Linked DNA regions of Homo sapiens. The protein of the gene in region 6 purifies or fractionates together with the protein of the main gene of each other region. This does not show direct contact. Each region holds a gene or a part of one and is shown on either strand. Other genes may lie near its edges. The genes, in order: MELTF, PCDH1, FAM234A, KLC1, GSTZ1, ICOS and ERLIN2.

What was found.
Region 1: the proteins of ICOS (region 6) and MELTF purify together in Homo sapiens (affinity purification with mass spectrometry; one large-scale study listed by BioGRID and IntAct). This does not show direct contact.
Region 2: the proteins of ICOS (region 6) and PCDH1 purify together in Homo sapiens (affinity purification with mass spectrometry; one large-scale study listed by BioGRID and IntAct). This does not show direct contact.
Region 3: the proteins of ICOS (region 6) and FAM234A purify together in Homo sapiens (affinity purification with mass spectrometry; one large-scale study listed by BioGRID and IntAct). This does not show direct contact.
Region 4: the proteins of ICOS (region 6) and KLC1 purify together in Homo sapiens (co-immunoprecipitation; one study listed by IntAct). This does not show direct contact.
Region 5: the proteins of ICOS (region 6) and GSTZ1 purify together in Homo sapiens (co-immunoprecipitation; one study listed by IntAct). This does not show direct contact.
Region 7: the proteins of ICOS (region 6) and ERLIN2 purify together in Homo sapiens (co-immunoprecipitation; one study listed by IntAct). This does not show direct contact.

What each region holds. Positions count from the first base shown.
Region 1 is NC_000003.12:197,015,989-197,020,121, reverse strand, and holds part of MELTF (melanotransferrin isoform 1 preproprotein), read left to right. Parts: intron 1-320; coding exon of another isoform or gene 321-517; exon of another isoform or gene 518-1,169; intron 1,170-2,831; coding exon 2,832-3,019; intron 3,020-3,752; coding exon 3,753-3,933; intron 3,934-4,133. UniProt on the Homo sapiens protein: Involved in iron cellular uptake. Seems to be internalized and then recycled back to the cell membrane. Binds a single atom of iron per subunit. Could also bind zinc.
Region 2 is NC_000005.10:141,868,279-141,872,411, reverse strand, and holds part of PCDH1 (protocadherin-1 isoform 2 precursor), read left to right. Parts: intron 1-2,784; exon of another isoform or gene 2,785-2,807; coding exon of another isoform or gene 2,808-2,895; intron 2,896-2,980; coding exon 2,981-3,843; intron 3,844-3,933; exon of another isoform or gene 3,934-4,133. UniProt on the Homo sapiens protein: May be involved in cell-cell interaction processes and in cell adhesion.
Region 3 is NC_000016.10:241,179-245,311, reverse strand, and holds part of FAM234A (protein FAM234A), read right to left. Parts: intron 2,695-4,133; exon of another isoform or gene 1,412-2,694; intron 1-1,411.
Region 4 is NC_000014.9:103,631,849-103,635,981, reverse strand, and holds part of KLC1 (kinesin light chain 1), read right to left. Parts: intron 1-4,133. UniProt on the Homo sapiens protein: Kinesin is a microtubule-associated force-producing protein that may play a role in organelle transport. The light chain may function in coupling of cargo to the heavy chain or in the modulation of its ATPase activity.
Region 5 is NC_000014.9:77,327,314-77,331,446, reverse strand, and holds part of GSTZ1 (maleylacetoacetate isomerase), read right to left. Parts: intron 3,976-4,133; coding exon 3,895-3,975; intron 3,536-3,894; coding exon 3,410-3,535; intron 2,325-3,409; coding exon 2,246-2,324; intron 1,693-2,245; coding exon 1,640-1,692; intron 1,138-1,639; coding exon 1,088-1,137; intron 379-1,087; coding exon 252-378; 3' UTR 1-251.
Region 6 is NC_000002.12:203,939,642-203,943,774, forward strand, and holds part of ICOS (inducible T-cell costimulator precursor), read left to right. Parts: exon of another isoform or gene 1-793; coding exon of another isoform or gene 794-854; intron 855-875; exon of another isoform or gene 876-1,117; intron 1,118-4,133. UniProt on the Homo sapiens protein: Stimulatory receptor expressed in activated or antigen-experienced T-cells that plays an important role in the immune response.
Region 7 is NC_000008.11:37,753,634-37,756,910, reverse strand, and holds part of ERLIN2 (erlin-2), read right to left. Parts: intron 2,997-3,277; coding exon 2,796-2,996; 3' UTR 1-2,795. UniProt on the Homo sapiens protein: Component of the ERLIN1/ERLIN2 complex which mediates the endoplasmic reticulum-associated degradation (ERAD) of inositol 1,4,5-trisphosphate receptors (IP3Rs) such as ITPR1.

The DNA.
Region 1 (4,133 bases), on a different chromosome or scaffold from region 6:
TGCCTGAAGATTGTTTCTTTTTTTAAATTGAGATATAATTTACATGCAGCAAAATTTGTTCTTTTTGAAGGATAGTTCTATGAGTTTTGCCAAATACATGCAGTTGTATAACCACCACCACAATCGAGATCTTGATGGGGCAGACCCTTCAGCCCAGGAGTTCCTCAGGCCCCTGCTAGTTATCTCCCCGCACCTGCCAGCAAGCAGCAAACACACCGTTCTGTCTGCAGTTTTGCGTCTCCCAGGACGTCTGATGATTGGGTTTTTTTTTTAAATCATTGTCATTCTTTGCTGTTATTAACCATTGCCTTTTAAATCAGAAAGTCCATCACGAAGGCAAACATGGACCAGATCTGAGGAGGAAGAAGGCGAGTGCCCTGCACACGAGGAAGCACGTAGGACGATGCGCTCTAGTGCTGGGCAAGCCTGGAAATGGGCTCCCGTTCACAGGCCCCAGGACGAGTCTGACAAAGGAGAATTTGGAAAACGGGCAAAGAGTAGGGATATGTTGGGTTAAGAATCAGCTCTTTCAAACTTGGGGTTTTTTTTGAGATGGGGGTCTCACCATGTTGCCCAGGCTGGTCTCAAACCCCCAGCCTCAACTGATCCTCGCATCTCAGCCTCCTGAGTAGCTGGGATGACAGGCGTGCACCTGGCAGCTTTTTCAAAGTGTTGATGGTAATCTGAGGCAATCTAAGGGAGTCATTTTTTAAGTGACTTTATACAGAAAGATTGGTAAGAGCCAAGGGGTAGAAGTGGCATAAATGTCTAAAGCAGGGAAGTGACAGGACTTTCATTGTTCTTGGCTGAGGAGAAGCGGGAGTGGCTGATGGAAGCACCTAAATGATGCCTTTGTCTGTGGGAAGGCAAATGATGCCCCAGAGCTCTAACCAAAGGTTTTGCAGCCGCCGAAAAACAGGAAAGTTGGGAAGCGGGGGTAGGACTACACTGAATCATTAACAGTGCTGTAAACTACCATGTGGCCATTAACAATGACCTTTAGGGAGTTTTCCTAAACGATCACTCTGGTGCGGGTGTTTGGTTTTGTTTTAAAATAGCTTTGCAGTGAAAGCTTTCATGACCATACAAATTATCTTTTTTCTTCCTATTTCCTTGTAGAGGTTTTTTTCCTCCTTGTCTTAAGGTCATAAAAATATTGTTATGTGGGACCATCTGTGGTTTAATTATAGTCCTTAATATTCGTCTTCTCAATATCCCTGTTTGGTGTTAATAGTTACTCTTGCAAATTTTCTTTTCTATCGAGAAACAAATGAACTTATGGAAAGTTTCCAATACTGTGGAAAAATACTCTACCAAATAGGATGCAAAATTGCCTGTCAACTATGTCCTTAACCAGGTTAAAAGCGGTCAAAAGGAGGCTGGGCACGGTGCCTCACGCCTGTAATCCCAGCACTTTGGGAGGCCGAGGCTGGCAGATCATGAGGTCAGGGGTTCAAGACCGGCCTGGCCAACATGGTGAAACCCCATCTCTAGGAAAAATACAAAAATTAGCCAGGCATCTTGGTGCACACCTGTAATCTGAGCTACTCGGGAGGCTGAGGCAGAAGAATAACTTGAACCTGGGAGGCGGAGGTTGCAGTGAGCCAAGATCATGCCACTGCACTCCAGCCTGAGCGACAGAGTAAGACTCCATCTCAAAAAGAGAAAAAAGGCCAGGTGTGGAGGCTCACGCCTGTAATCCCAGCACTTTGGGAGGCCGAGGTGGGTGGATCACGAGGTCAGGAGATCAAGACCATCCTGGCTAACACAGTAAAACCCCATCTCTAATAAAAAAAAATACAAAAAATTAGCCGGGCGTGGTGGCGGGCACCTGTGGTCCCAGCTACTCGGGAGGCTGAGGCAGGAGAATGGCGTGAACCCGGAAGGTGGAGGTTGCAGTGAGCCGAGATCGTGCCACTGCACTCCAGCCTGGGCGAAAGGGCCAGACTCCGTCTCAAAAAGAAAAAGGGGGGGTGAGGTCAAAAGACAGGAAATAAAATAGAAAAAAGGACTTGAAAGAAATCCATCGCAATATGAATAGTTGGAGTTATGGGAGATCCCCCGTCCTCTCTAGTCCTGGGGTGGGTAGATTCCTTCGGGGTTTGTTTCCACCGTGGCCCCTGCTCCGGGAGCCCTGCCCCCTGCCCCCTGCTCAGAGCCAAACGCAGTGCCTCATGGCAGCCGCAAGCTCATCCTAGACTCTTGGTACATTCATCTGTCTCACCCAAAGCCTTTCTTTTTTTTTGAGACAGAGTTTCGCTCTGTCGCCCAGGCTGGAGTGCAGTGGCGTGATCTCGGCTCACTGCAAGCTCCGCCTCCCAGGTTCACACCATTCTCCTGCCTCAGCCTCCCCAGTAGCTGGGATTACAGGCGCCCGCCACCACGCCCAGCTAATTTTTTGTATTTTTAGTAGAGATGGGGTTTCACCGTGTTAGCCAGGATGGTCTTGATCTCCTGACCTCGTGATCCGCCCACCTCGGCCTCCCAAAGTGCTGGGATTACAGGCGTGAGCCACCACGCCCGGCCAGCCTTTCTTATTTTCTTACTTTTTTTATCTTGAATAGTTATTTATAAGTATTGTATTACTGTCAGATACCTCCAATTCACTTTAGCAATAGAAATTGGTGAGAGCTAGAAAATGAGAGTAACGAGATAGAGTCTGTGTAGGTACCTGGAGTTGGGTGCGGCCACCAAGCTCTGCCACCTTCTGAATGCTGGGTTCTCATGTCCATGACACCCAGCCACCCCTCAGATTCCCTCTCCTGGGCCTTCCCCGCCACCCGCCCCAACCCCTTTCGGAGCTGGCTCAGCCCAGGCTTCCTGCTTCCCAGGGAAGACGCTTCCCTCCTGGGGCCAGGCCCTGCTGTCACAGGACTTCGAGCTGCTGTGCCGGGATGGTAGCCGGGCCGATGTCACCGAGTGGAGGCAGTGCCATCTGGCCCGGGTGCCTGCTCACGCCGTGGTGGTCCGGGCCGACACAGATGGGGGCCTCATCTTCCGGCTGCTCAACGAAGGCCAGGTGGGCTCAGGGTCCCCCAACCACCTGCACAGCTTCCTAGATGGTGCCGGGCCTTGTGGTCGCTCAGCAGGGTGGGACCAGGAGGGGCAGGACCCAGAGACTGTCCTTGGGACGGACCCCAGCATCGGGCCAGGTCAGAGTGAGGAACCGACTATGCTGGCTGGCCAGAAGGAGGGCTGGCCAGGAGAGGGGGGCCCAGAGGAGGGGGACCCAGGGATTCAGGCACCCTCAGAAGAAGCTCCTGAGACTTGTGTCTCTGAGAGCTAAAACCAAAACATATGAGCAAATAAACCAAGTAACAAAACCAGCGCCTTTCAAAGCACACCATTAATTACATGTGGCGAATAAGGTTTGGCTAAAACCGCCGCTTGTGACAGCAATAGACTTCTGACTGCTGGTGCCCCAGGCTCAGTTAGTTTTGCCCTATCCAGGCTGCTACCACCAGCCCCACGGCGTGTCCTCAGGACCGTCCCATGCCTGGCCACAGCCATGTGTCCAAACAGCTGAGTGTGAGGAGGCCAAATGAACTCAGAGTAGACCCAGAACTGACAGGGCCCAGGGGAAGGAGGCCGCAGATCAGGGGAGGCGCCGCAGAAGAGGGAGGCCTCACCTGGCCCTCAGGGTGGGTGCCTGGTCTGAGGTCGGGGAAGAAGGAGGTAGGGGCCAAAGTGGGAGGGAAGGATATGGCCTGTCAGCACCCTCACCACCCTGTACCACACCCCTTGACACACAGCGTCTGTTCAGCCACGAGGGCAGCAGCTTCCAGATGTTCAGCTCTGAGGCCTATGGCCAGAAGGATCTACTCTTCAAAGACTCTACCTCGGAGCTTGTGCCCATCGCCACACAGACCTATGAGGCGTGGCTGGGCCATGAGTACCTGCACGCCATGAAGGGTCTGCTCTGTGACCCCAACCGTAAGTCCACCTGTCCCCACTGCTGCCAGCTCCAGCCCAGCTCAACCTCGGGCATGGCGAGGCTCTCTGGGAAAGTGGCCGGGGGAAGACGCTCACCAGGGAGGCCTCTGCGGGAACCTGTCATTTCCATTCCTCTGCCCCTGGGGCTTTGGGGAGGAGGCATCTCTTCCACTGTATGGCCTGTTGTACCTCGGAAGCCC
Region 2 (4,133 bases), on a different chromosome or scaffold from region 6:
TGGAGAGAACAGAGGCAAACAGTGACTGCCTTATTTATTCTCTTGGTCAGGTTTAGGGTAATTCCCGTGGGCTTCCCACATAACGCCTCACCTGCCAAGACTTTTGTAGAGAATTAGGGTGCACAGTGATACCACATTGTATATGCAGAGGAGGGTGGCAGCAGGATACAGTCCCATAAGAAAATGAGGTTCTCTGGTGATGGTCCTTTGACGATGTGTTTGGGTTGGGGTTGAAGTAGTCAGATGAGCCTTGTGCCAGGTCCATGCAGGTGGAGGGGGGGGGTGGGGGGTGGATCCAAATGGAGTACAGATAAATTCCTGCTTCCTTTAAAGAGATTAACATTCACACCAATCTGATAACGCCGCACACACTTTAGGGAGGGGCCTGTGCTTGGGGAAGGCCATACAGAGGAGGGGATGTGTTTGATTTATCTAAAGACTCTGTGCATTCAGTGAACATTTGCTGAGAGTCTACTATGTGCCCTAAACAGAGAAGACTTACATTTTACCCCAGGAAGTTCTTAGTGGTGTAGGGGAATCGGGTAAGTGAGCAAGTAAAAGAGCAGTGGTCACACAGCAAGTACCAGGAAAGGCTAAGCCTAGAGAGCAAAATAACAACAGTCATTCAAGAGCTGCCAAGTGCCCACTGTGTGCCAGGTCCAGGGCTAAGCCCTGAGGAGGTAGGAGCAAACAAAGTAGAAACTCTCCTGCTTTCTGCTCACCATCTTGGAGCAAAGACAGACAATTAACACATTTTCCAAACAGGTACACAACTACAATTGTGCTAAATGCTTTGAAGGAGTCCTTTGTTGAGTACCCACATTTAGCCCACAGTATCTCAAACACCCTAGGAAATAGGTAGTATTATCCCCATTTTACAGGTAAGGAAACTGAGGCACTAAATCTTTGCTTCAGGTCATGCAGCCAGGAAGTGAGCAGCTGGGTTTGCCTCAGACTGTCTAATGCCACAACCCTCGCTCTTCTCCACCCTGCTGCCTTACATTCGCCAAATGGTATACAGAAGCAACCAAACAAAATGGACAAATAGTCATTGAGTTAGAAGCACTGTCATGGCAGATTGGACCAGTCTTGTTTACTTCTGCATCCCAGTGCCCAGGACAGAGCCTGGCATATTGTAAATGCCCAATAAACATTTGTTGAATGCATGACTGAGTCCCTACAGTGTACCCAGATGTGCAAAGGTGCATTGTTAGGGGGCAGGGGATGAGTGAGTGTACAGAGTACTGTCCCTTCCTTCGTAGTGCTTTGTGTTTGCCTGGAAAGGCAGAGAACTCAGGAATAGGTGCACAATACTGAAGCTGAACAACACAGGCGGGCGGTGTCCCAGTCAGCCCCATGATTCATTGCCTTGGGATTGGAGCAGACAATAAGTGGCTGTGAGTTGGAGGAAGGAGAGGTCACCGTGGGCAGGAGAGGACTGTGAAGGTTTCCTGGAGGGCCAGAGCCTGCCCTCAGTGGGATTGATGTGGGGTGGGTGTTCCAGGTGTGGGGAAGGTATTCCAGGTAAAAGTGAGGAAGTGGGGAAAGGAGACTGAACCAGAAGCCTCCAAAGAAACTGCTGATCCAAAGATTTTGGATTTGAATAAAGGAGGGACTGGCCATGATTTTGTTGGAGAGGAGGGGGCATTCAAGACAGAGACAGTAGCTGGGTCTAGCTGGGATCTGCAAATGCACGACCTCAAAGCCAGGGGAGATGGGCAGAAGAAGGGGGTTATTGTTGTGATGGGGTACAGCTTGTGGTTGACTAGGGCAGAGGTTGGGAGAGGCAAGTGTGAAGTAGGGGCTGGATATACGGAGATGGATGTCAAATAAGAGCCAGATGTTCATCCAGAGACCAGAGGGTGTGGGGTGGGGGAGTGGCCAGGGAAAGGCTGCTGGTGTCATTATCATCGGCAGCTCTGTCCCAGTTAGACCTGCTGGGCTCCCTGTTGCTAAGGACAGGCCAGGGCAGCTCCCAATGCCAATTCCAGGGCTAGTCAGCCCTGACCACAGTTCTGACCCCAATCTTGACCTGTGTTCCCTTGTACGCACCTGCCCATGGCAGCAGGAGGGAGAGGAGAGGAGCCCTAGCAACTGTGCATGTTCCTGTGTGCATGCTCTGGGGCATGTGTGCATGCTCTGGGGCATGTGTGCACGCTCTGTGGCCTGTGTGCACGTTCTGGGGCATATGTGTTGGGGGAAAGTCGGGAAGGCTAACACCTACTCCTCAACCCTAACCATTTTCACAAGCCTTGCCCAATTCAAGCTGGCCTTTTATGGGGGTGGAGAATACTGGGCACCGTGGGTGATTGTCAGAAAAAGAGGATTTGAGATGTCATACCTCATGCATATGCACTGACTTGGCATCTCAGAACAAAGAGAAATGAGACATCATCCCCTCTCCCTCCAGCCAACCTTAATGGAGCCCAGTGTGACAAGTCAAGGTCCCAGGGTCTGGGGTGTGTAAGGACGTACTTGTGTCTCTTTCCTACCATGCATGTGGGGAGGGGTGCTCCAGTTGGGGATGCTCGAGGTCTCACCCTTCCACTGGCTCTCTCTCCCTATCTCAGTATCAAGGTAATTACCATCGGTGACTAAGGCAGGATGCTCGTGAGAAGGAGGTGTTGGGTGAAGCACAGAGCAGAGAGCAAGGAGGAAAAGAAGGAAAGAGGGCGGGCAGCCGGGCTTGGGCCCAGGGAGCGTCAGGTGGGTGAGGGTGTTCCATGGGCGGGAGCTGCTCTAGGCATGCCAGGCCTCTTACTGGCTCCTCCAGCTGGGGCAGACACTGCTGCTACACCCAGCTGTGGATGAGATTCAGGGATCTGAGTTTCTGGAATCGGGGTTCTGTGCTGGGACTGACTGCTCTTGTGGAGAATCGTGTGTCAGTGGGAGAGGGTGAGTATGGGGCCAGCTCTGGGCAGCTCAGGGCCAGGCTTTTCTTCCCAGCTCATGGCCTCTGTTTTGCCTCTTCCCCTTGCAGCCCTCCTGATTCTGGGGCCTCCCAGGATGGAGCACCTGAGGCACAGCCCAGGCCCTGGGGGGCAACGGCTACTGCTGCCCTCCATGCTGCTAGCACTGCTGCTCCTGCTGGCTCCATCCCCAGGCCACGCCACTCGGGTAGTGTACAAGGTGCCGGAGGAACAGCCACCCAACACCCTCATTGGGAGCCTCGCAGCCGACTATGGTTTTCCAGATGTGGGGCACCTGTACAAGCTAGAGGTGGGTGCCCCGTACCTTCGCGTGGATGGCAAGACAGGTGACATTTTCACCACCGAGACCTCCATCGACCGTGAGGGGCTCCGTGAATGCCAGAACCAGCTCCCTGGTGATCCCTGCATCCTGGAGTTTGAGGTATCTATCACAGACCTCGTGCAGAATGGCAGCCCCCGGCTGCTAGAGGGCCAGATAGAAGTACAAGACATCAATGACAACACACCCAACTTCGCCTCACCAGTCATCACTCTGGCCATCCCTGAGAACACCAACATCGGCTCACTCTTCCCCATCCCGCTGGCTTCAGACCGTGATGCTGGTCCCAACGGTGTGGCATCCTATGAGCTGCAGGCTGGGCCTGAGGCCCAGGAGCTATTTGGGCTGCAGGTGGCAGAGGACCAGGAGGAGAAGCAACCACAGCTCATTGTGATGGGCAACCTGGACCGTGAGCGCTGGGACTCCTATGACCTCACCATCAAGGTGCAGGATGGCGGCAGCCCCCCACGCGCCAGCAGTGCCCTGCTGCGTGTCACCGTGCTTGACACCAATGACAACGCCCCCAAGTTTGAGCGGCCCTCCTATGAGGCCGAACTATCTGAGAATAGCCCCATAGGCCACTCGGTCATCCAGGTGAGAGGCCCCCTCCGTATAACTGTCAGGGTGACCCACCACTAGAAATGGGAGCCCACCCAACCAGGTGAGAGTTCCCTTCACTTAGGGGAAAAACTGCCAGAATACTGTAGTGAGACCCCTTCTCCCCAAACTCAGCCAGGGGAGTCTTTCCCACCCCACCCCAGCAGGTGATATTACTTTCCTCTATCAGGCTACTTAGGTGACAGTGAAATAGCATATGAACAGTTTCCCGTGACCCCTAAGGCAGACTCAAGCTGGGGGAACCTCTGAGAAGTAAAACTCCCGCC
Region 3 (4,133 bases), on a different chromosome or scaffold from region 6:
GGGCAGTGGTGATCTAGGCTCACTGCAACCTCCTCCTGCTGGGTTCGAGAGATTCTCCCACCTCAGCCTATAAAGTAGCTGGGACCACAGGTGTGCATCACCGCGCCGGGCAAATTTTTGTATTTTTTGTAGAGACAGAGTTTCGCCACGTTGCCCAGGCTGGTCTCAAACTCCAGGGCCCAAGTGATCTGCCTGCCTCAGCCTCCCAAAGTGTGGGCCACGCCCAGCCTAAAAGTTAAGCATTTTAAAATGTGTTGGTGAGAATATACGATAACAGGTCTGCAGTACAATAGTCGTGGGAATTTGAAATGGTAGTTATTGGTCGAGCGCGATGGCTCATGCCTGTAATCCCAGCACGTTGGGAGGCTGAGGCGGGCAGATCACCTGAGGTCGGGAGTTTGAGACCAGCCTGACCAACATGGAGAAACCCCATCTCTACTAAAAATACAAAAAAAAATTAGCCGGGCGTGGTGGTGCATGCCTGTAATCCCAGCTACTCGGGAGGCTGAGGCAGGAGAATCACTTGAACCTGGGAGGCAGAGGGTGCAGTGGCCAAGATCGTGCCATTCCACTCCAGCCTGGGCAACAAAAGCAAAATTCCGTCTCAAAAAAAAAAAAAAAAAAAAAAAGAGGTTACCATTCAGGGAAGCAGACTTCAGGGTCCAGCCCTGTGCTATTTTTACAACATTTTGTGAATCTATAAGTAGTCCAAAATAAAAAGTATAAAATAGAAAATCAAAAGAGAAAAGAAAACCGTTAGTAAGGGGGAGTGGGGTCAGAGGTTCATGTAAGTTTTAGAGGAAGAACCAGCTTCTCCACAGGCAGCTTGGTTTGTGCCTCAAAGCTACCTTAATATGAAGCTATTTTGTTCCAAAGGCAGGAGTCCTTTTAGTGTTTTGTTTATTTTTGGAAGAATATCAATAGTGGAGTTTTGTGGTAGCCTGAAGAAATACTGAAAGAAGAGCCAAACCCCTGGCATGTTACAATTCTCCATTACAAAATAATCACCAGCTTCCTCAAAACCATCCATTAAAATCATTTTCCGACCGGGCGCGGTGGCTCACGCCTGTAATCCCAGCACTTTGGGAGGCCAAGGCGGGTGGATCACAAGGTCAGGAGATCGAGACCATCCTAGCTAACACGGTGAAACCCCATCTCTACTAAAGATAGAAAAAATTAGCCGGGCGTGGTGGCGGGTGCCTGTAGTCCCAGCTACTCAGGAGGCTGAGGCAGGAGAATGGTGTGAACCTGGGAGGCGGAGGTTGCAGTGAGCCGAGATGGCACCACTGCACTCCAGCCTGGGTGACAGAGCAAGACTCCGACTCAAAAAAAAAAAAAATCATTTTCCTTTCCACTGTGGGGAAAAAACGGATATGCACAGCATTTATAACAATACTCCCCAAATACTTACCTGAGCAAATGCCAGAGTTTAAAAGGGGTCGTCTCCAAAGTCAGACAATGTGGTGACAATGAAAATGCCCCAAGGGGTGGGAACTCTTACTGCTATACAGCCTCTGCACATGCTTTCACACCGGCCTGGCCACAGAAAAGGGGTGTGTGTTTAACACGAATAAGGCCTGTCTTTGGAAAATTAAAAAGCTGGTCAGGAATTCCTTCACAGGATCTCCAGGTAAGACTTCCTTTTTGGAAACTTGACTGAGCCACCAGAAATAGGGGTAGTTATTAAAAGCCACAACGGCAAGGCAGCCAAAGCCAGGCAGTTCATGATTCAACCAGTTTGCAAATAAAGACACCATGAGACAGGTCCAAAGATTTGCTCATCAACAGCAAGAAGATACCAATGTTTTTCTCTACTGCGGTCATTAAAAATACCAGGAGCCGTAGCCAGAGCTTCAGGAACCTGACTGGCAGAGAAAATCCCCATGGACCCAGGTCAGAGAGACTTGAGCAGGGCACTGTCCTTGCTCTACTTTAGCATCCATACCATTGACCACAGAGAGTCAGGCCATGTGGCTATTTAAAAAAACAGAAAACAGAACTCAACAAGCTAATAACCAAAAATTTAACTTCATGGCCGGGCAGGGTGGTTCACGCCTATAATCCTAGTGCTTTGGGAGGCTGAGGCAGGAGGATGACTTGAGGCCAGGTGTTCGAGACCAGTCTGGGCAACATGGGGAGACCCCATCTCTACAAAAAGTAAAATAAAATTAGGTGTAGTGGCATGTGCTTGTAGTCCCAGCTACCTGGGAGGCTGAGGTGGGAGGTTAGCTTGAGCCCAAGAGGTTGAGGCTGCAGTGAGCTGTGATCATTATCACTACATTCCAGTTTGGGCAACAGAGTGAGACCTTGTTTCAAAAAAAAAAAAAAAAGTGAGGGCTCAGAAAGAAAAGAAAATTTGTCAATACAATACGTATTAATTAAGGTAAAAGACCTGACACGGGATGGGCGTGGTAGCTCACGCCTGTAATCCCAGCACTTTGGGAGGCTGAGGTGGGTGGATCGCAAGGTCAGGAGTTCGAGACCAATTTGGCCAACATGGTGAAACTCCATCTCTACTAAAAATACAAAAAATTAACCAGGCGTGGTGATGTGCATCAGTAATCCCAGCTACTCAGGAGGCTGAGGCAGGAGAATCGCTTGAACCCGGGGGGCAGAGGTTGCAGTGAGCTGAGATAGCGCCATTGCACTCCAGCCTGGACGACAGAGCGAGACTCTGTCTCAGAAAAAAAAAAAAAAAAGGAGCTGACACCAAGAATAACTTGAAGAAAGAAAGATAAACACAATACCTCATATATGGTTATTCAAACGGATTATTCCCCTGGCCTACAGAACTATCAGTAAGCCCGCGGTGACTCGTGCCTATAAACCCAGCATTTTGGGAGGCCGAGGTGGACAGATCACTGGAGGACAGGAGTTCAAGACCAGGCTGGCCAACATGGTGAAACCCCGACTCTACTAAAAATACAAAATTAGGTGGGTATGTTGGTGTCTGCCTATAGTCTCAGCTACTGGGAAGGCTGAAGCACGAGAATCACTTCAGCCTGGGAGGTAGGGGATGTGGTGAGCCAAGATCGTACTACTGCACTCCAGCCCGGGTGATAGACCAAGACTCTGTCTCAAAAAAAAGGACTATCGGTAAACCAGCTGTCCACTCTAGGCCACTGAGGCTGCCACACCTATCTGTCCTCCAGGGAGTCCACAGGCTACCCAGTCCTGAGTGGAAACTCTGATTAGGGGGAAGAACAAAACAATCCAGCAGTAGTTTGCACAGCTCATTAACATTTCGGCAGGGGTGGGGCAGGAATACCACAGTCCATGCAGAAAGGAAGTGACAGGTCTCTCCCTTTTCTCCAAGAGTTCTTTCTCTAAGAAGTTTACTGAGTCACAGAGAACAGAAAATAAAAACAAAAGTCTCATTCTAATTGCCTTTTTTTTTTTTTTTTTTGAGACGTTGTCTCGCTCTGTCGCCCAGGCTGGAGTGCAGTGGTGCAATCTTGGCTCACTGCAACCTCCGCCTCCTGGTTTCAAGCCTCAGCCTCCCCAGTAGCTGGGACTACAGGTGCCCGCCACCAAGCCCGGCTAATTTTTTGTATTTTTAGTAGAGATGGGGTTTCACTGTGTTAGCCAGGATGGTCTCGATCTGCTGACCTCGTGATCCGCCCGCCTCGGCCTCCCAAAGTGCTGGGATTACAGGCCTGAGCCACCGCGCCCGGCCTCTAATTTTTTTAATTGCAGAAATTTGATGAAAACTTTTTTTTTTTTGACACAGGGTCTTGCTCTGTTGCCCAGGCTGGAATGAAGTGGTGCAATCATGGCTCACTGCAGCCTTGAATCCCCGGGCTCAAGAGATCCTCCCGCCTCAGGCTCCCCAGTAGCTGGGAGCACAGGCATGCACCAGCTAATTTTTGTTCAGCTAATCTTTAAATTTTTTGTAGAAATGAGAGCCTCACTATGTTGCCCAGGCTCCTCTGTAACTCCTGGGTTCATGTGATCCTCCCACCTCTGCCTCCCGAAGTGCTAGAATGACAGGTGTGAACCACCGTGCCCAGCCTGAAGCAGACAGCTTTTTTTTTTTCTTTCTTTTTGTGTAGACCTCCTCTGCGGTCAAGATAAGTGTTTTAAGGCTAGGCACAGTAGCATACATTTGTAATCCCAGCAACTTCGGGAGGCTA
Region 4 (4,133 bases), on a different chromosome or scaffold from region 6:
AAAAGTAATGATAGGATTAAACAGCATTATCATGATTCACTTGAAGCTGCAGCTTTAAGTACTGCAAGGTGATTCAAAGCTTATACCGCGAAGCAAAAAAACTGAGTTAGAATCTTGACTTCACAGCTGTGTAACTTTGGTTTCTGAAACTTCCCCTCTCTCACCCTCAAATTCCTCAACAGTAGAATCTCAGTAACAGTACCTATTTTACTTTTTTTTTTTCTTTTTGAGATGGGAGTCTCACTCTGTCGCCCAGGCTGGAGTGCCGTGGCTCGATCTGGCTCACTGCAACCTCCGCCTCCCGGGTTCAAGTGATTCTCCTACCTCAGCTTCCCAAATACCCGGGACTACAGAAGCATACTACCACACGCGGCTAATTTTATATTTTTAGTAGAGACAAGGTTTCACCCATGTTGGCCAGGCTGGTCTCAAACTCCTGACCTCAGGTGATCCGCCCTCCTCAGCCTCCCAAAGTGCTGGGATTACAGACATTAGCCACCAAGCACAGCCTTTTATTTTTTTAAGAAACAAGGTCTCACTATATTGCCCAAGCTAGTTTGAACTCCTGGGCTCAACTGATTCTCCCACCTCAGCCTTCGGAGTAACTGAAACTACAGACACATATGACATCCGCAGGGTTTACAGTACCTATTTTCTCTGGAACAGTGCAAACATCACTCTGATCAGTTTTAGTAGCAGCATAGTGAACTTCAGAGAAGCCTGAACATAAATTTATGTTATGCAACTGAAGTCAGGGAACAATCTATGGTTTAAATGAAGGTAACAGATATTTTAGAACCAAGGAAGTAACTCAGTTCACGTATGCACGTAACTCAGCTTAACATGTTTGCTCCATATCCGTTGCTTTAAGTTCAGATAGCACTTTTCAAATTCAAAAAGCATATATGCAAACTGCTTTCATCTGCCTCCAAAAATTAGTTAAAACTAAAAAAAAATCATAATTCATTTCTGATCCATGAGTATACTAACTAGGAGGCTACAGAGTACAACGCCACAAAGGATGCCTTGGGAGAACGAATGAAGATCATCTCGAAATAGCCTCCATCCTTAAGAGGTAATATTCTCAGGAAACAGGCAACAGGCCGGGTGCAGTGGCTCAAACCTGTAATCCCGACACTTTGGGAGGCCACGGCAGGCAGATGGCTTGAGCCCAGGAATTCGAGACCAGCCTGGGAAACACAGTGAGACCCCCGTCTCTACATAAACTATATTTAAAAAAAAAAAAGTTAAAGGTCATTAGTAACCTCCTAGAAGCAAAATCCATAGAGACTTCTCAGTCCAACCCATCACTGACTTCTTAGCCAATTTGCTACTGATCTCCTCCCTCCTCTTCTCTTGGTTTCCCAGGACCCTCTCCTCTTAGACCCACTCCCCATCTCTACCAGATGGACATCACACCCGACTGGCTCAACGATATGATGCAGTCTCTGGAATCTTTACCTCCAGCCTCAGCCTCTGTCTTGAGCTCCAAAGATGTATCTCTAACTGCCCACTAGTCCACTTGGCTGCCCCACAAGCACTTCAGATTTAACATGTCCAAAAACAAACTCATAATCTCATCCTTCTCCCATTTTCCCTCCTTGGATGAGTGTCACCAGCCAGTGAATCACCCAAATTAGAGATGAGGATCATTCTAGATGCATTCCTTCAACAAACATTTACTAAGTTCCTATTACACGCCAAGCACCGACACTGAATACAAGAGACAAAACTCCCCATCCTTGTGGAGGTTATGAATGTTAAGTGGAGACAAACAATAAAAATTTTAAAATGATTAAAATAATACAGTATTGGCCAGGCACGGTGGCTCAGGCCTGTAATCCCAGCACTTTGGGAGGCTGAGGCAGGTGGATCACTTAAGGTCAAGAGTTCGAGACCAGCCTGGCCAACATGGTGAAATCCTGTCTCTACTAAAAATACAAAAATTAGCTAGGTGTGGTGGCACATGCCTGTAGTCCCAACTACTTGGGAGGCTGAGGCAGGAGAATGGCTTGAACCCGGGAGGCAGAGGATGCAGTGAGCTGAGATCATGCCACTGCACTCCATCCTGGGTGACAGAGCGAGACTCCGTCTCAAAAAGTAATAATAAAAAAAAAATAATAATAATACAGCATTTAAGATAGTGAGGTGTGCTAAGGAGAAAAATCAGGGCAGAGGCTAAGGAGTATGTGGGGAAGTGAAGAAATGCTAATCACTACAAGAATGGGTTTGGTTCAGAACTCCAGATGCACCTGGAAGTGCTTGAGTAGGGCCAGAGCAGGAAGATGAAAAGAGACAGGGTGGGGTGCTCAGAGGACACTGACAAAAGCTTTAACAGAGGAGTGACTCAGGTTTTCACAGGATCATTCTGGGGAGTCCTCCCTGCAGCTCCTCATTTACCCCAATCCAGTCAGCCCCAAATCAGCTCCACTATAACCCTTACAGCCCAGCCCCTGCCCCCACCTAGCTTCTCTGTTCCTTCTGTCACTGCCCTAATCCTGAGGCTTGCCGAGTTGGGGTTAATGGCTTCCTAATTAACCTCATCCCAGTTCACAGCACCTGCCCCACCACTGCCTATGCTCTTTCTAAAGTGGCAACTGGCTCCTCAGAATCTTCCAACCCTCCGGCCAGGCGCGGTGGCTCACGCCTGTAATCCCAGCACTTTGAGAGGCCAAGGCGGGCGGATCACGAGGTCAGGAGATGGAGACCATCCTGGCTAACGTGGTGAAACCCCGACTCTACTAAAAATACAAAAAATTAGCCGGATGTGGTGGCACGCACCTGTAGTCCCAGCTACTCGGGAGGCTGAGGCAGGAGAATCACTTGAACCTGGGAGGTAGAGGCTGCAGTGAGCAGAGGTCGTGCCACTGCGTTCCAGCCTGGGTGACAGAGCAAGACTCCATCTCAAAAAAAAAAAAAATCTTCCAACCCTCCTTTGTAAACCTCAGAATGAAAGCAGACTTCTAAGAAGTCATTCAAGGCCTTTCCTAACCTCGTCTTTCCACACTCACTCCCATGTCCCCTTCCCAACATGCCCCTTTACAGCAGCACAACCTCAGGATTTATTTCCTCCAAGCAGGAACCCCAATCCCAATCCCACCCCTGACCCCCTGACACTGGCTGATTGGTACTTTTCTTTTGTGAAGAATCGCCTCCTCAGTGCACTCCACAGCCTTTAACCTGGTCTGTGGTACCTGCCCATGCCAGCCTGTGAGCTCCTAGAGGACAGAGTTTTTTTGTTTTTTGGTTTTATTTTTTTTGAGGCAGAGTTTTGCTCTTGTTGCCCAGGCTGGAGTGCAATGGCGTGATCTCGGCTCACTGCAACCTCTGCCTCCCCAGTTCAAGCGATTCTCCAGCCTCAGCCTTCTGAGTAGCTGCGATTAGAGGCACCCGCCACCACACCCGGTTTTGGTTTTTTTTGTATTTTTAGTAGAGACAGGGTTTCACCATGTTGTCCAGGCGGGTCTCAAACTCCTGACCTCAGGTGATCGGTCCATCTTGGCCTCCCAAAGTGCTGGGATTACAGGAGTGAGCCACTGCACGGCTGACAGCGGCTCTTTTTGTTTGTTTTGAGACGGAGTCTGGCTGGACTGCAGTGACGTGATCTCGGCTCACTACAACCTCCACTTCCCGGTTCAAGCGATTCTCCTTCCTCAGCCTCATGAGTAGCTGGAATTACAGGTGTGCACCACCACACCTGGCTAATTTTTGTATTTTTGGTAGGGACGGGGTTTCACCATGTTGGCCAGGCTGGTCTTAAACTCCTGACCTCAGGTGATCCACCTGCCTCGGCCTCCCAAAGAGCTAGGGGCGATCTGCAGCCTCAGCCTCCCAAAGAGTTAAGATTACAGGCATGACCACGCCCGGCCAACAGTGGCTCTTTTATCAAGGTATCGCTGACTACTCAGCACAGTACCTGCCATTCAGTTGGTTCCCAACAGACATTTAAGACCAGTATTTGCAATCTTAATGTGCTTGTCACTTTTATTCTATGCCCTGAAATTTGACACTTAAATCTTCCCAAATACTCTCGTCTTGAGTATATTACTGATCATTTCTTTGCTACATAAAATACTGGTTTCAGCCCAGGTGCAATGGCTCACACCTGTAACCCTAGCACTTTGGGAGGCTGA
Region 5 (4,133 bases), on a different chromosome or scaffold from region 6:
CAGCCTCACGACTGCCCCGTCACATAGATAACAGTATTCCTGCCCACCCTGCTCCCCGCATCTCCCTACTCCACCCCACATGCGTGTGACAGATGAGGGGACTGAGGTGGAACAAGTTTCAGCAGGAAGGCAGATCCAGGGCTAGAGTTCGAGTCTCCCATCTCCTCAATTAAGACTCTCGTTTCCAGGCCTCTTCAGCCCACCCAGCTTCTGCTCCTGTGGCCCTGTGCCAACGGGGCAGGATTTGGGAGCTAGGCCCTCAGCTCAGTGGGTGTATCTGGCTGCCGGCAGGGGTGAGACACCTGGAAGGCCTCCAAGACCAGCAGCCTCTTGTTGATGGAGCTGATGGTAGGGTAGGGGGTGAGATCCACCTTGAATCTGTAGTAGAGAAACACCTGCTAAGCTAAGGTTTTCAGGGACACAGGGAGACTGCCCTGATGCAGCAGGGGGAGCAGAGAGGCAGGGCTGGATGAGGTCGAGGGAGCTGTCCAGGGAAGGACGATGGGGCAGCCCTTATTCACAGGGGATGGGTAGGTCTTGTGCAGTATCATTTGGCATCTGTTACCTACTGTTCCTATTTCTTTGTGAACCTGCTATGTGTAAGGCCCAGTGCTAGGCATTTATATATACAGACTCTCTTCCCCCATGTTGTAAGCTTCTTGGGGGCAGGGAATGTGCCATACGTTTCCATATCCCTAACGCCTAGCATGATGCCTTCCAGAGAGGTGCTCATTTGTGCCCTACCAAAGGGTTCACGGAAGGATGCAGAGGTAGAGCTCACTACTGCTCACAGACACACCACATTTGAGGACATCAGGCAGGTGCTCTTGGGGGTCCACCAGGTGAGCCACCTCCTCTTAGGAGCTGGGGCTATCTATACAGGTTCATCTGGGCTGTGGTGGGCGTAGTAGGAGCACTGCCCCAATTTCTTCTGCCCTCTTCCAGGCAGAAGTGGCTATGTGGCCTGGCATGGTGGGCTCCTTGGCTGGTTGGCGAAGCGTCTGCATGAGATGCTATCTCGCCAGCTGAGTGGGGCCTGACTGTGGGCAGAGCCACGAGAAGGGAGGGTGGCGGGGCTCTCTCTTACCTTTCAGCATTTGCCACCTGAGGCACCAAGCACAGATCAGCCATGGTCACCTGAAAGAGGTCCCGGTGGGTTCCCATCAGGGTGCATACCCCAGAGTCAGTGGCTGGACTGGGTGTGTCCACTGCGACTCTACTGGGGGTACCAACAATCTGCTTCGGCTCTTTCACCCATCCCACCTCCAATTCTTGTCTGCCCTAGGCCTGCATGAGTCTGTCCCCCGGAGCTGAAGTGCCCTCCCAGGCCATGCTCCAGTTGCCCTGACAACCAACTCTGTGGGTTGAGAGGGCCAGAGAAGATGGATTGCCTTGACTGCGCAGACATCATCTAGCACAATCCCTCAACTGATGCTGGCCCGCCTCATCCTCTCACAGCCAGTCTTCTACCTTGAGTAACTCCCTCTTAAGACGGTTTAGTGGGAGTGAGCTGAGGAGTGCCCCATGGCACAGAGATCCCCCTGCAGACGCCTTCTCAGGAAGCTCTGAGCTTGAGGGAGGTCAGCATGAGGGAGGCAGCCACTGTGGCTGGGCCTGGGGAGGTCTGGGGACAGCTTACCTCGTCTCCTACACAGTATATGCCCGCTGTGCTCTGTAGGATCTGCTCCAGGGCTGTGGGGAGGCCACATAAACATCTTATTCTGGGCGCAGGGAGGGGACACAAAGCTTTCTGGGCCTTGGCCTCCATAGTTATGAAATGGGCGCCCAACTGAGTGACAGACTGGGCATGGCTGCTGGTGAGAATGTGGCAGCCAGGTCTCGAGAGAGCTGTTAGGGATGAGCTGCTGTTTCCTGAGGCTCCGCACAGACAATCACCATTTCCCCACTCGAGTGGACAAGCCCTGCCACTGGCCACGGTGACAGCTCTCACTCTGATGGCTGGCGCTGTGCTGGCCTTGGTTTCCCAGCTGGAGTAGGCAGTGAAGCTGAAGTTGGGCCATCCAGCTATGAAGGGCTGTGGGCTCAGGGACCGAGGTTCCCAGAAGTGCTGGAGCTAAGGTCTGGATGCCCACCCAGCCCATTGCCTCCCCAGTCCTGCCCTCATCCATGCAACTGTCAGGCCCAAAGCAGCCTGGGAGGCTGGTTCAGATACCCAGGCCCCTGTGTGCGAGGGCCATACCTCTAAGAGGCCACTGTGGGGCAGCTCACAGAGGTGAGGACTCACCGTTAAAGCCACAAGTGATGGCGTTCTGGGCCCAGGTCAGCTGCATCTCCTCTCCCACTTGCTTCAGGACAGACAGGTTCTGTGCAGCCCAAAGAAAATCTGTGATTGCGCTGACAGCTGGGTGGGGGCTACCCCTTCGCCAAACCCCCTCAGGGAAGTTCACTTCCCATCTGCCCCTGGCTGGATGTCTATCCCTTCTCCCCCAGGCTCCATGAGCCCCTTCCTTCAACCAAGGGCCCTGAGGTTGGAGGGAGGTAGCCATCCCAGCAGCCACCTTTGCAGGCTGCCCCAGTGGCCTCAAAAAGCCACGTGATTCTGTCAGAGATGTGCAAGAATCCCTATTCATGTGACACAGGACGCGGCCATGGCTGTGGCAGGTGTGCCCACAACTCGAGGCCTGTCTCCCTCACTTCTCCCTTGCATGGTCCCTTGTGAGGAGAGGGAGTGTGAAAGAGGGTGGGGCTGGGATGAGGGAGGTCCACAAGACCGGCTTCCAGAGATTTCCAGCCTGGCTCCATCTTGGCACCCCTGGAGCCATTTTCCCTCTGTTTCCTCATTATAAAATGGAGATGTCTGTCTGCTCCAACATCCTTTGTTAAAGCGACATGCGGGTAGAGGGCATAGGCATGCAGGGATTCTGACTTAGTCCCCACTTTGTTATGACCTACCTGTGGGACTCCTAAGTCACTCCACCTTTCTGGGGCTATTTCCTCATTCAGAGTAGAAGCTGGCACAGATGAACTGTTTTTAATACTTAGTTGTCTGTTTTAACAGTGACACTTAAAAAATAAAATCCTACAAGTATCCCAGTATATGACTGAGATAGCACAGATGAAACGGAAGCTGCTCTGGTTAAAGGCAGGAGGCCTGGACTGGGGCCTGCTCAGTCTCTCCCCTGCCATTCTGGCCCTTTCCCCACCCCAAGCACCTGTACATGCGTCCTTGGAAACTAGAGCTTCTCGGAACGCAGCGGGGGACCCGCTGGGGGGCTGAATTCTGAGATTGCGATCTTCACCCCCTTCTTTCACATGGTCCAGGTCAGAGGCCCTGAGAATCCCCCTCCCTCCCTTGACACCCCCGCCCCCACACTGGGCAGCTCACAGCCAATGTGTGAGTGTAAGAGTGTGTCAGGTGTGCAAGGGTGCAAGTGTACAAGTGCCACACCTGCAGGGGCTGGATGCCACCAGCGATGAGGTCAGAAATCATACGCACGCTGGCCCTCTTCTTTGGGTCCTGAGGCAGAAGTCGCGGAGTGGGACGCATCTCCTCTAGATACTCAATGATGGCCAGCTGTCCAGAGGGGAGCAGTGAGGCAGGGAGAGGGCCCAGGACCCCTGGACCAGAGGGGACAGGGCCAGCAAACTCCTCCTTCTCCTCTTCCAGCACCATCACTACACCTCTTCCCCCCTGCTTCTGCTCAGCTCAAGCCCTATAAGCCTTTTTGGACCTTATCATGCAGAACTTGGTTCTCCATGTGCTTGAATCTTCCCTTATTTTCCTAAATAACCTCGCACCCTCCCCACGAGTCTTGTATTGAGCCTCTCCTATGTGCTAGGCACCTTGACTGTACACAGGCGAGGAAGAGATGTCAGGCGCTCTCATTCAGGGCACTGCTCTCATGAGGGCCCTCCCCCAGGCCCTGCACTCACTGACTGGTGAATGGTGATTCCATCAATCTTCAGGGTTGGCACCTGCTTCATAGGATTCAGTGCCTGGAAGTCCTTAGAAAACTGTGGAGACAAGGCCCTGGTGGGCTGGGTGGCCTGGCCTGAGTTGGCCAGAGGAAAGCCAAGCAAGCAGGAGAACCCCAGGCCTGCCACCCACCCCCATCTCCCTTCCCTGGGAAGGCCCTAAATCCTAGGCCCAGGGTAATCCCTGGGGGATCCAT
Region 6 (4,133 bases):
AGCCCTCAAGGCCACTTTGAGCCTTCCTTTGTCACTGAGGCATTCCATTAGTGACTCCTGAATTCCACTTGGGAAAAGAGCCCCTCAGTGTCTCCAGCGTCTGAGAGAAGTCTGTGAAGATGACTGACCTTGGAGCCCCTCTTAGCCTCTCCACGACTGAGTAAATGTCATCTCCTGACAGCACCCCCTTCCAGAGTGTTCTTGTTAGATTTAACAAAAATCCCAGTTGTCAATTTTTTCTTTTGATAGATGAATTCAGGCCATTCCCAGTCAGCATAAGCCTCTACTTGATTTTATTTCTATGTTTATTTACTACTTATTTTTCTTTGTTGTATCCTCTTTTTCTCTTTTATTTTTGTTGGTGTGATGAAATTTCTTTTGACTCTCCTCTTTGCCTCCGGTTAATTTGGAAGGTCGACTACAGTTCTTAATTTACTAAGTAATTGACATGTTCAAAGAATCTTAATTGAATGTCTACTTGTTTATCATTGTATGAAAATAATGAAAATGCCTTTGTCTGATGTGCCTAGTCCCCATCCCCTGCACTGATATGAGAACTTAAGAATGTTCTTCCTTTCCCACTCTCACACTTCCCCCAGACAGTGCACCCTGCTCCATACGTGGGTTTTGTGGAAATAATTTAAAACTTACAGTTGCAGATCATTGCTAGGTTTCCTCTTACAGTATTTCTCTTCTGTTTCAAGAATCCTTTCTTAACACTTACATCACATACGTTCAATGACAACATCATTCTGGACATCTGCTCCTGTCTTGTGATCTCTGTTCTAATCTAATGATCAGAAGACTTCTCTTATTTTCGTTAAATACCCCCAACTCTCTGAATTCCAGTACAGGTAAGGGTGTCTTCCTTTTACCTTGATGAGTGACTGATATCTTTCCTGGGAATAGGAGTCCTGGATGGCAGCCTTTCTTCTTAGTGGTTGCAGATATTCCTCCACTGTCTGCTGGCTTCTAGGGTTGTGGGTGAAGAGTTTGATGGTAGTCTAACTCTCATTCCTTTGTAAAAAAAAAAAAAACTCTAGAATTTCATAATCTTGAAAGCTATTTACTTCAGTATTGGAATTCAGGAATTCCTCCAGGATATGTGTAACTCTCTCCCTCTGTTTCTCTTTCTGTGTGTTTCTATTAATTTTTTTTTTGAGGCGGAGTCTCACTCTGTCGCCCAGGCTGGAGTGCAGTGGCGCAATCTCGGCTTACTGCAACCTCCACCTCCCGGGTTGAAGCGATTCTCCTGCCTCAGCCTCCCAAGTAGGTGAGACTACAGGCACCCGCCACCACGCCTGGCTAATTTTTTTGTATTTTTCGTAGAGACGGGGTTTCACCGTGTTAGCCAGGATGGTCTCAATTTCCTGACCTCGTGATCCGCCCACCTCCGCCTCCGCCTCCGCCTCCCAAAGTGCTGGGATTACAGGCGTGAGCCACCGCGCCCCGCTGTTCTATTAATTTATTATTATTTTTTTTAAGACTGGGTGAAAGTTTTCAATCTCTAGACTCAAGCTTTATTCTTCATTTCAGTCATTTTTTTCCTAGTATTTGTTTAATCATACCTTATGCTGTTTTTCCCCACTCTTTCTAGAAATGTCTCTTATTCTTATGTAAGATCTTGAGTCCCTTATTTTTTCATCATTTGTGAACAAAATGGCTTTCACAACTTGCTGTTGCTTGTTAACCACAACTCCTTCAGATGAAATGGATATTTCAGTTTTAAGTTACTAGTAGCATATTCCCATTTCTTGGTAGAAACAAAATGCAGGCATGTAGGGGGGACTGAAATTCTTATATTTACTCACTGTAAGATTCATAGCATTATTTGGCTTAAAAAAATTCATCCCAGTATTCACAGTTGTAAACAGCAAAATCTACAACATATACTGCTTCCCTACTCTAAGAATATTGAGTTTTATATGCAAAATGACTTACTGGGCTTTGCAAATTTTTAAAAATGAGTTTTAAAATCATTTGTAGCTTGCAATAACTGAAGAAAAGATCACAATTTCTCTGTAAATGGCATCTCAGTACTACTGCTGTTCTAATAAACTAGGTCTGTCAAATGGCACTTTTTGGTCATTCAAAGTGAAAAAAACATGGCATTTGAAACCTTATAAAAATTCACAATTATATTTTGGAAAGTGGAACTTAAGTATGTAGGGGATATGTCACACAAATTGAAAGTGTTAGTCAAGAAATGATTTTTTTTTTCAATAGTTTGGCCTGTAAGGTTGACCAAAACAGGTAAAGATTTGCAAGTTTAGAGAGTCAGAAACTGGGGATATGAACTTCCTTCTGGTTCATGTATAACATAATGATGCTTGTATCTACTTTGCTTGAGGAAAAAAAAGAAACACGTTGTCCCCAAATAGGGTGATAGACCAGGAGTTTCCATCCAGTTGACCACGAGTGTTGTTAGGATCTGTTTATTTGAGTCATGTTGACACAGACACAGCACTTTCAATAAGCAATTAATGATCATTTAAAGGTAACTTTTTTGAATTTGATAAATAGATTTTTTTTACAGCCTGTATTTGTGTTCTTCTAGGACTTTGCAACAAAGAATCTGTACATGCAAAAACAACAATAACAACAACAAGCTGTCTACTGCACTCACAGTTAAAGTTCTGTTTACTTTGCACTATCTAGGACTAATGCAAAAATCTCATAGATGTGCCTATTTGCACTTATTTAATTATGATGAAATTTACTTCTATATGTGAATCCATTTCTGTACATTTCTACAGGCAGATAAGTGATGGGAAAATCATTAAGAATTTAGACTTCATCAGAGAAGAACCCAGGTACAATGACAGCCCAGCTTAATACATGATGGCTGATGAATGAAAATGTCTAGGGAAATGAGTGTGTTATGTACAATGTAATTTCATATCTAAGTCACTTTAAAATAATTTTTTGATATATAATAACCCTTTCAATCACAGAACACATATGTGGCACCAATGTGAATACTACTTTAAGTATTAAGGTGATAATATATCCAATATACCTAGAAGGAAAATAAATACCTGAAATTCATTTTCATATCTAGCTTAATGTTAAAAGCTTCTTTTTGTTTTTTTATTTCGTAGCAAATCTCTTTAGCTCTGATGCTTTAGTTTCTGTACAATGAGAGGATTGGACTAGATTATTAGGTGAAGAGATTAAGTAAGTGTGTGTACCCTGGTGTCAAATTATCTTATTCTTTTTTCTTTGTTTTTGTTGGACTGGGTTAATTCGAAGACCTTGTCTTCAAGCTCTGAATTTCTTTCTTCTAGTTGTTCAATTCTATTGCTGAGACTTTCCAGAGCATTTCACCTTTCTAAAATTGTGTCCAAAGTTTCCTGAAATTTTTATTGTTTTTTCTTTAAGCTATCTATTTCCTTGAATATTTCTGCCTTCACTTCTTGTATCATTTTTTGCATTTCCTTGCATTGGGCTTCACCTTTCTCTGGTCCCTCCCCGATTAGCTTAATAACTAACCTCCTGAATTCTTTTTCAGGTAGATGAAGAATTTCTTCTTGGTTTGGATCCATTGCTGGTGAACTAGTGTGATTTTTTGGGGGTGTTGAAGAGCCTTGTTTTGTCATATTACCAGAGTTGGTTTTCTGGTTCCTTCTCATTTGGGTAGGTGCTGTCAGAGGGGAGGTCTAGGGCTGAAGGCTGTTCTTCAGATTTTTTTTTTGTCCCATGGAGTGTTCCCTTGATATCATACTTTCCCCTTTTCCTATGTATGTGGCTTCCAGTGAGCCAAACTGCAGTGATTGTTGTCTCTCTTCTGGGTCTAGCCACCCAGCAAATCTACCCGGCTCTGGGCTGGTATTGGGGGTTGTCTGCACAGATTCCTGTGATGTGAACCATCTATGGGTCTCTCAGCCATGGATACCAGTGCTGTTCTGGTGGAGGTGGCGAAGGGTGCAATGGACTCCATGAGGGCCTTTAGCTTTGGTGGTTTAATGCTCTATTTTTGTGCTGGTTGGCCTCCTGCCAGGAGGTGGCGCTTTCCAGAAAGCATCAGCTGTAATAGTATAGAGAGGGTCTGGTGGTGGGTGGGGCCCTAGAACTCCCAGGATTATATGCCCTTTGTGTTCTGCTAACCAGGGTGGGTAGGGAAGGGCAGGGCT
Region 7 (3,277 bases), on a different chromosome or scaffold from region 6:
AAGTTTAATGAGTGAGAAACATTCAACCAAGGTGATTTTTCCTTGGAAAACCCTACAAAAACTGAATTTTATAAACAGTTACTTATTTTGATAGATGTTCCATTTATAAATAGCAGCCATTACTTCACTGTCTACAAAATTGCAGGCTGTCACATTTTACATGTTTAGAATTCAAATGTTTTAAGATTAGATTTTCTAGTAAGAGTTAAAATAAAAACAAAGTTACACAGACAGGTTAGTTGTCCTATGCAAATAAAACAGCTGATTTTCATGATTTTGCTATTTAGACAGATAAGAGACAACCATTGGATTGACACTAATGTGTAGGATAACATATTTTTTGTTTAAAGAGGAAATGATAGAAACTTGGGGTGGGGCAGCTGCAGCAGGACTTGACTCTACTGAGGCTCTTCTGTGCTCATGGGACAAGCTATCGCAGGATGTTAGTACCGGAGAGGCCCTCAAGTTAAGACCTGAGCAAAGTGTGCTATTCAGAGAAGCTGAGCTATCCCTGCTCCCGGTTCTACTGTGGTGAATTGGTGTTTTCTGAGGTCTAGGCAACAAGAGCTCAGAGTAGAAGGAGTAGACATTTTCGGGAAGTGGGATGCTGGGCATGTCATGTTGCTCTAACAAGTGATTAATAGCACGGAAATGGGAGGAAGATGAATGTATTTTAAATGGATACTCCCTATGCTAGTCTTGGGAAATGACCTTCTTTTCTTGAGACGGAGCCTTGCTCTATTGCCCAAGCTAGAGTGGGATGGCATGATCTTGGCTCACTGCAACCTCTGCCTCCCGAGTTCAAGCAATTCTCCTGCCTCAGCCTCCCAAGTAGCTGGGATTACAGGTGCCTGACACCATGCCCGGCTAATATTTCTATTTTTCGTAGAGATGGGGTTTCGCATGTTGGCCAGGGTGGTCTCGAACTCCTAACCTCAGGTGATCCGCCTGCCTTGGCCTCCCAAAGTGCTGGGATTACAGGTGTGAGCCACCGCGCCCGGCCAAGGGAAATGACCACCTTCTGAAAGGACTCTGGAGCACATTAAAATCCATCACTCCCAGGCACATTTTGTTGCCTGCAAAAAGTGTGCCCAGGACCAGAAGTCCCAGGAGTCAGAACAGAGAAGGGCAACTTTGAAGTAAGGGGAGCTAACACTGTATCTTTCTAGGCAGGCTCAATGCTCCCAAAACTTCTGAGCAAGCTGGCCCAAGCTCTGGGACCATTCCTTAAACCAGAAGTCTGGGCATGGGCCCAAAAAGAAGGCAGGGATTGCTGCCAGAAAGGACCATTCACAGATTCACCTAGGGAAGATGGGTATAGGAGTTGGCGGGGGGGGGGGGTGGGGGGTGGGGGGTGGGGGTCAGCTCATAACAGGGCCAAGTCCTAAGCCAGAGGTGGTCATGGAGGGCACCAATATGCTTGCAAGTTAACTCCAGATAGCTGCCCTCCACTTAATTCTAGACACAACCCATGGGCTATACAGGTTGGACACCCCCTACCCCTCAATCTCAGGATATAAGAAAAACCTTTTGTTCAAATTTGCTCTCCCCATCCTGAATCTCCCAAGGTGACTCAAAATGTTCTGACCTAGTAATGAAAAAGAAAACCCTTTGAATGGATTTTGGCACAGCCATTCCAACCTGGGGACTTGGGCATGAACTCTGATTTGCTCCACACAGCTGTCTCTGGAGACTGAATGTTCAGCCTGACTTGCGTTGCTGCCTGCAGCCCTGGATTTAAAAACACAGGCTACTTAGTGAATAGAGTCCTTTTATCACTAAGTCAGACCCACTCCCAGCACAAGCCACAGGCATTAAGACCAGGACATCTCTTGACTGATCGTTCCTCCTCCTCCACACATGGTGTCAGACCTCTTCACTACAGAATCTCTACAATAATAGAAAGACACTTCATCTCGAGGTGCACACATAACCTGTCAGGCAGGTCCTGCAGTGGCTAAGAGATAACAAGGATCCCACTCCAGCAGCTGTTAAGACACTTGAGTTGTTTGTCCCTGTCTTCTTGATGCTGAGTGGAACCAATGAACAGAATTTTTGAGAAGAAAAAAAAAAAACAAATCACAGCATAGGTGAAAAGATGCCGAAATAATTGAGTTGTGGTGATCAAGCTCTGACTCTAGAAATGTAGTCAGAAACCACCACTCTGAGCCCTAGGGCAAGGAGCAAAGTGTATACAAAATCTTGCAAAACCTAGCACCAGTACTTCCTTATGAGGGCTCAAGAAAGCACACCTCTAAAATAACTCACACACATGCAGACAAGAATGCCAGGAAGGTCAAATGTTCTCTGCAGCTGTTTCTTCACAGCTCTACTGGCAAACTCACAGGCACATATTTGCTCAGTTGCTGAGCCTCACCCACAGACATCTCCTACCTTGGAGGCAGAGGTGAGAACACTGGACTGCATTTTCCCAAGTAAGGGAAATCAAATGAGTTGGAGGTAACACTCTACATTTCTCCCTCTCCTTAATGACAGCATCCCTAATTAAGCCAGCCTCAAAGGATAAAATTAGTGTCTAGAGGTCAAAGGTCAAGCCCATGATTTACAAATCTTATTGGAAGTCATATAAACTGCTTACCTGAAATAAAACCCCCCATCATCAGTCCCCACCCTCCTTTCCCTAGAAAGGGAGTGGATTTAAGTTCATTTCTTCTTTTTCACCACAGTAACTGGAAGACAGTCAGAGAAGGTAGTCGGGGAGGGAGGAACATTCTGATTCATCTTAAAAAATAAAGATCTGCTTAAGTATCATTTGCAGTCATATCAAGTTTTTTTCAATTCTCCTTAGTGGCCGTCTCCAAGGGTTCATCTTCTAAGCCAAAGCTTAGCTTGTCAGCTAGCCCCTCAAACTGCTTGCTCACACTGCCCGCAGAGTCCATGAACATGTTAGGAATGTCTTTGCCAAAGTAAATCTTGCTGTTGGAAGCAATGGCCTTGTACTTCATCAGCTGCAGATATTCAGGGGTTAGCTTCAGCTGTTAAAAAAAAAAAAAGTATGGAAGACTTATGTTGAACCATATTAGAGAAGGAGGGGAGTGGTGCCCCTTCAATTTTCCTATATTTATGCCCCTACCTACTTTTTGTGGTCTCATTGTTACATTTCTGTAAGAGACAGTCATCTCAGATCTTGGAGCATAGGTGCAAAAGTTAAAAGTTTCCATGTTTAACACAAAATTAAACTAAACTTCTATCAAGGCATGTCCAAGGAGAAGGAAAGTACCTGCACCACACAGCAAAGGCATCCTCAGTTCTGCCC